Homo sapiens: one gene and its partner. The protein of the gene in region 1 purifies or fractionates together with the protein of each later gene. This does not show direct contact. Each region holds a gene or a part of one and is shown on either strand. Other genes may lie near its edges.

Region 1 (4,242 bases):
CTGAAAAAGAAATAATTTGACTTCTTATTTTCCTATTTGAATGACAGGGTATGTCTTGATGTGGGATCTGGCAACTAAGTGTCTGAAAAGCTCAGTTTTGCTATGAGAAAAAAAACCATTCTCTGTCAAAAGGAATCAAGGCTTAATAAAAGATTTCATAGTATACACTGAAGGATGAGGAAGCTTATAAAGAAAATAGGCATCAAGGTTGGTGGTTGAAATAATACAGAGAAGTAAAATCAAGTGCAAGTTCAGATTTGGTGATTTGGAGTCTCAACTTTGAAGAGACAATGTGTGTTCTATATTATGTAGCATAATTCAGGGATTTCTTTACCCTTTAGTCTCAGGTTTGAAAGAGGAGTTCTGATTCAGAGTCTGGGAGTGTTCCTGAAACCACTAGTGTTTCTACAGGCAATAGAGGAAAAGTCTACCCTCTGGAACAAATTGGTTTTTAGGGAGTCCTTGCTGCCCTTTTCAGGCCTTTAAACACATAGCCAAATCCTCCATCAGCCTTCATGTTTACAAGAACAATTCTCACTTTTTAACTTAGGGAAACACACCACTCAGGACAAGGCAATAATAAACACTACTAAATTATGTGAAAGGGTTATAGAACATAAACTCAAAGGAGGGCTGAAGTTGGTTTGAATGCACAGCTGGATGCTTCATTGTAGCCACATAGGCATGAGTAGGGCAAACTGCTGAAATTTGCTGAGGATCAAATTATGTTCCACAAGATCATGCTCGCAAGAATTACAAGAATATCCAACAAAATCACTAGAGTCTAAGACTTGCTCAAGAATATTCTCTGAGAATAGGCAGCCATAGAATGAGCTAAGTGAAGCTCGACCACAAGACCTCACTGGATTAACGTCCTGATTTTTCCATTGCATAAGTTTACTCTCGGCAGAATTACGGTTGGGGGGAGGTTGGGGTGGCAGGTTGGCAGGGGAGAGTGGATCCACACTCTGATAGATCCTATTTAACTAGTTTTACTTTACTGTGCAGACTACCTCCCACAACAGGTAACCTTGAATGTAGGCAGACATGCTTCCAGAAATGTGAGTGGAGGTAGGGCGGAATAAAGAAAATGCAACTGCAAAACTGAAAATTCATACTAGCACAATGATGTTTAAATGATTTTCAAGTGTTGGAGCTGGTGTGGTGGAAAACAGTTGCCTGACGCTTTGGTTTGAAGGCCAGGGCTTGTCATTTACCATGTCAGGAGAAATTCCTCTCTTTTCGACAATAATCTCTGCACTGCCTACCTCAGGAGGTCCTCGCAATGCCAAAATGCCGCCAGTGTGGGTTGCGCCTCAGCTGAGCACTGATTCTACAGCCTCGCGGTTTGGGCGGGAAGTCCCACCTCCGCAACCCTGACCAGCCCGGCTCCCCACCCCCACCACCCGGAAGTGAACACCACGAGCTAGCGTGTCTACTTCACAGGCCAGGTCGTCAACTCAACTGTCAAGGTGTCCATTGTACCAGCTGGGCCATGGATCCCTCCCGCCTGAAATCTGACTCCACCTGCCAAGAGTCTGAGCCTGCAGGCCTAGATTTCGACTCTGCTGGCCAAGATTATTTCTCTGCAGCCCAATAATTCGACTCTTTCTACCAAGAATTGGACCTGGACTCTCTTAACGAAGATCTTCTTTCCCAGTCCATGCCACATGCCAGGACAGAGACCTCTGTGGGCACATATGAATCCCACTCGACTTCTGAACTGGAGGATCTGACAGAGCCCGAGCAAAGAGAGCTCAAAACCAAACTCACTAAATTGGAGGCTGAAATTGTAACCCTACGCCACGTACTAGCAGCCAAAGAGAGACGCTGTGGGGAACTCAAGAGGAAGTTAGGCCTCACCGCCTTGGTAGGGCTGAGACAGAATCTGTCCAAGAGCTGGCTTGATGTTCAGGTCTCCAACACCTATGTGAAACAGAAGACATCAGCTGCTCTGTCCACCATGGGCACTCTCATCTGCAGGAAGCTTGGAGGCGTGAAGAAGTCGGCCACATTCAGATCTTTTGAAGGTCTGATGGGGACAATCAAGTCCAAAGTCTCAGGGGGCAAAAGAGCTTGGCCCTGACTGTCTTTCTTCTGCGGAGGGTGGGGTTGATCTGCTCTCAGTTTTGGGGTGTGGGGAAGACCCACTCCAGATTCCGGGGAGTGGGAATGAGCCACTCCCAGTTCTGGAGAGTGAGGATGACCATCTCCACTTTCTGGAACCAGAATGAGCCCCCTTGGTAACCTTGCCTGGTACTAAACCAGTGCAAGGACCCCCTTCCCTTATTACATTTGCAACTCTGCCCAACAAAAACAAGCAAGCAAACCACAATGGTAAAGTGGTTAATTCAGGAAATTGACAGAATCCAGTTTTGAGAAAAGAACACAGATATTTGCTGCTTTTAAGATAGAGAACCCAAAGTTTTGTACCTGGTTATTTTTCACTTAAGTTTGTAGACGAAATGTGCCATTATATTAGCTTTCCTGAGACTGTATCTAATGGGCAAGTCAGTGGCTCCAGAGGGGTCTTAGGCCAAAGCCCAAACTCTCTTTTGGAAAACTAGCTTATTAGAAAGCCAAAGTAGAGTTCTGTTTAAGCTTGAAAGAGGTATGAAGTAATCTGTAGTGTTTTTTTGGTTTGTTTGTTTGTTTTCCCTTCCCCATTTCCTTCCTTCCCTCAGTCTCAAAGTCACCTTGAAAGCTTCACCTGGCCTACAACTTTTATTTTAAAAAGATGATCAAGAAAACTTCATCTTCTCTGAGACTCAGAAAAAGAGGGGAAAATAGTGGTAGTGCACTAATTGTTACATTACTAATATAGCTTTTGTAAAACTCGTTTGTTTTCAAAGGTCTGGACTAAGCAAAACAACAGTGTCAGTTTAGGAAATTATTACTACTTTGAACACAAACTGAAATTGCAACTTTGCCTTGTGCTTTGTTTATAATTTCTTTATATATCAAAATGAGTGTTTTAAAGTTTAACCCTTGAAGCAGCATGTCTTTGCCATAGCAGCACTTCACTTAAAAGGAAGAAATTGCCTCTCTGGCAGCAATTCCTAGTTAGTTACCACCTCCAGCTGAGGGGCTGGAGGAAAACAGGTATAGCCAAATTCAAGAAAGATAAACCCCTGTCTCAAGGAACATTTTAAAAAGAACGTCTGTCCCCTGTGATGCTGGCTGTTATGCCTTTGAATGGACCTAACTATACATCTTTGCTCTTAACTCCAAGTCTGCCCTTCTTTTTAGGAAACCCTAAAGGAGAAGGAAGCAGAATATAACCCTCTGGAGAGCTCAAGACAGTAGGAACCTGGACGGTGCTTGTTTGAATTTTCTGATATCTGATTTTCACACGAATATACTTTTTGTTTGTTTTCCTTTTCCATTTTCAAAATGCCAAGATCTGGGAGCCTCTTTCACTCCTCTAGACACACTGCCTGAGATAGAAGTTTGCATCTTATTGGCTGTGGGCAGAGACTAGGACCCTTATGGGTACATTTCAGTAATCTCTCACTGCCTAAAATGGTAATCCCTCCAGCCTAAGAGGATGATTCTGTTTTGTTGACTCTTGAATGCTCCCCCAACATTCCTTTGGTTTTCCTATAAGCAAAACCAAATACCACTATAAATACAAAAGCATCTGGTAAACTGTAAAGTTACTCATGTATCCCAACCCTCCACAGATTTCTGAAGACAAAGTTTTGCTTGGATTAAAACAAGATGTTTTACTATTTTGCATGTTCGATTTTTAATTTGTTGTGTTTATCAACCAAAATGGCTTTGTATGCTGGAGAACAAGAGGTGAGCCTGCAGCATACAAGAAATGAAAGTAGTCCAACAGGCAAAGGCTTTGACATATTTCAGGAAGGCTTGTGTTAGGGACAATCTCAGACTATTATCATGGGCCAAACCTGAGAGATGTTATATTTTATTTAATAATTTCTACAACAGTAGTAAGTTTCCCCAATAAATTCTCAACTCCGTAAAAGTAGTAAAGTACATATTTATTTTTGCTGATCATTGTTTTCCCATTTCTGGCTTAGGATTGATCTTCAATAAATACACGTTAAATCAAGGAAGGAATTAACATCATATACTTCAGACATCAAATATGGAATCCAAGAGACTATCAACAACATGAACTTGTTCACAAGTTCCTTCTGCTTTTAAACAAAAATATCGTGTTTATTCAAAGCCAATCTGAGACCCTACTCTGTATCAAGAACTGTCCCAGGTTCTGAA
Region 2 (3,500 bases), on another chromosome or scaffold:
GGCTGGGTGCGGTGGCTTGCTCCTGTAAGCCCAGCACTTTGGGAGGCTGAGGCGGGTGGATCACCTGAGGTCAGGAGTTCGAGACCAGCCTGACCAATATGGAGAAATCCCGTCTCTGCTAAAAATACAAAATTAGCCAGGCGTAGTGGCCCATGCCTGTAATCCCAGCTACTCGGGAGGCTGAGGCAGGAGAATGGCTTGAACCCGGGAGGTGGAGGTTGCGGTGAGCCGAGATCACGCCATTGCACTCCAGCCTGGGCAACAAGAGCAAAACTCTGTCTCAAAAAGAAATGAAAGGGTTACCTGTTGTTAAATGATGACAAACAGTATTCATGAACATTTGGTTTATACAAGATTTACCTTTATACTTAACCAAAATACTTCTTGATGTAATTATTATGTCGGTAAAATTTAATTAGGAAATTTTTTAAATTCCAAGAAAATATTTTTCTGTAGCTTAAGCCATTATATTTGGTTCAGTGCTTATAAAAGCAAAGAATAATTTGTCATTCATTTTTTAAATTAGTGTTTTTTCAAAATTTGATCAATAATAACAACATTTCATCAAATGCTTACTCTCTCTGCTAGGCACTGTGATAAATATTTTACTTATAATCTCATTTATTCCTCACCAGAAAGCTTTAAGGTGGATATTACTGTAATATTCTTGACTTGGAGGAGTTGGGGGAATGCTACCTTTTTCTTTTCTCTTTTTCTTTTCTTTTCTCTTTCTTTTTTTTTTTTTTTGACATGGAGTCTCATTTTGTCACACAGGCTGGAGTACAGTGGTACAGTTTTGGCTCACTGCAGCCTCCATCTCCCAGGTTCAAGCAGTTCTCCTGCCTCAGCCTCCCCAGTAGCTGGGATTACAGGCATGCACCACCACACCCAGCTATTTTTTGTATTTTTAGTAGGGACGGGGTTTCACCATGTTGGCCAAGCTGGTCTCGAACTCCTCACCTCAGTGATCTGCCTTCCTCGGCCTCCCAAGGTGCTAGGATTACAGGCATGAGCCACTGTGCCCAGCCTCTTTTTGAAAATAACATTTATCCATTCTTTAGCTTCTGTAGCATTATAATCTAAGTTTGAATCCAAGCCTTTATATTTGGGAGTCTTAAGATTTGTATGAATCACTTTTGGCCATTAGCAGTTATATGCATCATCATACTAACATGCTGCTTTTATAACCTATGCCTGGATCTATTTAATACTTATGTAATTGCAGAAGCATAGCAAAGAAAACTGATTTCATTGGTGGTTTCTATTTGGTTAAACTTGTAAATTTCTTTTCTTTAATTAAATAACTTACCTCTGGCCGGGTGTGGTGGCTCATGCCTATAATTCTAGTACTTTGGGAGGCTAAGGGTGGCAGATCACTTGAGTTCAGAAGTTCAAAACCAGCCTGGACAACGTGGCAAAATCCTGTCTCTACAGAAAAAATTAGCTGGGCATGGTGGCAGGTGCCTGTGTTCACAGCTACTTGGGAGGCTGAGGTGGGAGGATCACTTGAGCCTTGGAAGCAGAGGTAGCAGTGAGCTGTGATCGCGCCACTATACTCCAGCGTGGGTGACAGACCAAGACCTTGTCTCAAAAACAAAAAAACAAAAACGAAAACAAAAACACATATATCTGAAAGTAAAACGGCTTTTCTTCTAAGTCAGCTGGAAATTTTGACATTTAAATGTGTGACTCCATGAAATGGCCACACCAATTTCTCTAACTTCTCTTAACCTTTGAAAATGTTTTGGTCTAGTCTGAGAGAATTAGTAATTTCAGTTAGTTTTTATTGCATGTGACTTAAAATCTTCTATGAGCACAATAATTTTTCATTTCAATATGACATCACAGTGGAATCTTTTTTTGGAGACAGGGTCTCACTCTGTCACCCCAGGCTGGAGTGCAGTGACGTGATCTTGGCTCACTGAAGCCTCCGCCTCCTGGGTTCAAGCGATTCTCCTGCCTCAGCCTCCTGAGTAGCTGGGATTACAGGCACACGCCACCACTCTCAGCCAATTTTTGTATTTTTAGTAGAGATGGGGTTTCGCCATGTTGGCCAGGCTGGCCTCGAACTTCTGATCTGTCCATCTCGGCCTCTCAGAGTGCTGAGGTTACAGGTGTGAGCCACTGCACCCGGCCCATAGTGGAATCTTTTTGAAGATATTTTAAAAGCTTACTTAAAAAGAAGTGCCGGGAGCGCAGGCTCACTCCTGTAATACCAGTACTTTGGGAGGCTGAGGTGGGCAGGTTACGAGGTCAGGAGTTCAAGACCAGCTTGGCCAACATGTTTCTGAAACCCTGTCTCTACTAAAAACACAAAAATTAGCTGGGTGTGGTGGTGTGCCCCTGTAATCCCAGCTACTGGGGAGGCTGAGGCAGGAGAATGGCTTGAACCTGGGAGGCAGAGGTTGCAGTGAGCCGAGATTGTGCCACTGCACCCCAGCCTGGGTGACAGAGCAAGACTCCATCTCAAAAAAAAAAAAGAAGTAATGGGTGGGCTCAGTGGCTCACACCTGTAATCCCAGCACTTTGGGAGGCCGAGGTGGGTGGATCATTTGGGGTCAGGAGTTCAAGACAAGCCTGGCCAACATGGTGAAACTCCATCTCTACTAAAAATACAAACATTAGCCGGATGTGGTGGCGTATGCCTGTAATCCCAGCTACTCGGGAGGCTGAGACAGGAGAATCGCTTGAACCTCAGAGGTGGAGGTTGCAGTGAGCCAAGATTGTGCCACTGTGCTCCAGCCTGGGCAACACAGGGAGACTCTGTCTCAAAAAAAAAAAAAAAAAAAAAAAGAATTAAGTTAAAGTTTAAGTATGTTACCACCAGAGTAAACAACTTAAAGCTCAATTTGCACATACTCAGGCAAAGCTAAATCTACCACAGATTATTTCTCTGATTTCTGGCTGTCCAGTTTCTTTAAAATCTATCGTCAGACTCATCCTGATTCTCGAAATGTTTATATATATCTTTTCAAGGGCTTGTTAGAATCTGGAAAATACATTAGTGGGACCTCCATTTTATATATAATGAAACAGGTTGAATTGGAGGTTGTGGAGGTTGAATAATTTTATCAAAGGGCATATGGCTATTAAGTAGAGAAAGGAGGATTTGGTCAGTCTGACTGATTCCCAAGGTATATGTCTGTGACCTCTATAATGTACCATCTCTCCTATGCAGTTTATTCACATGATCTCTGGGCTCTTTTAGAACGTTTATAATTTGGTTTGAGATATTTGAATTACACAATATTGAATTATTTGTGTAATTTTCATTTTATCTTATTTTAAGCAAGAGCGTCGCTATTACTTTTGGGATGTATCTGTTTCTATAGCTTTTTCTAGTAATAGGTAGTCTGTTGAAATAAGTGTTCTGCTACTTTTTTGACCTTTTTAAATGATGTTGACCAAAATATAGTGTAAGCTCCATCAGTACACTCATTGTTCCTGCTCATATTCTTTTCTTTTACTAGCTAAGTGGTACAATACACATTTTTCCTGGT

What was found.
Region 2: the proteins of TPD52L3 (region 1) and GABPB1 purify together in Homo sapiens (co-immunoprecipitation; 2 studies listed by BioGRID and IntAct, with this or other methods). This does not show direct contact.

The regions. Positions count from the first base shown.
Region 1 is NC_000009.12:6,326,933-6,331,174, forward strand, and holds the start of TPD52L3 (tumor protein D55), read left to right. Parts: upstream 1-1,442; 5' UTR 1,443-1,663; coding exon 1,664-2,030; coding exon of another isoform or gene 2,031-2,086; exon of another isoform or gene 2,087-3,249; coding exon of another isoform or gene 3,250-3,281; exon of another isoform or gene 3,282-3,988; intron 3,989-4,043; coding exon 4,044-4,087; 3' UTR 4,088-4,242.
Region 2 is NC_000015.10:50,296,199-50,299,698, reverse strand, and holds part of GABPB1 (GA-binding protein subunit beta-1 isoform beta 2), read left to right. Parts: intron 1-3,500.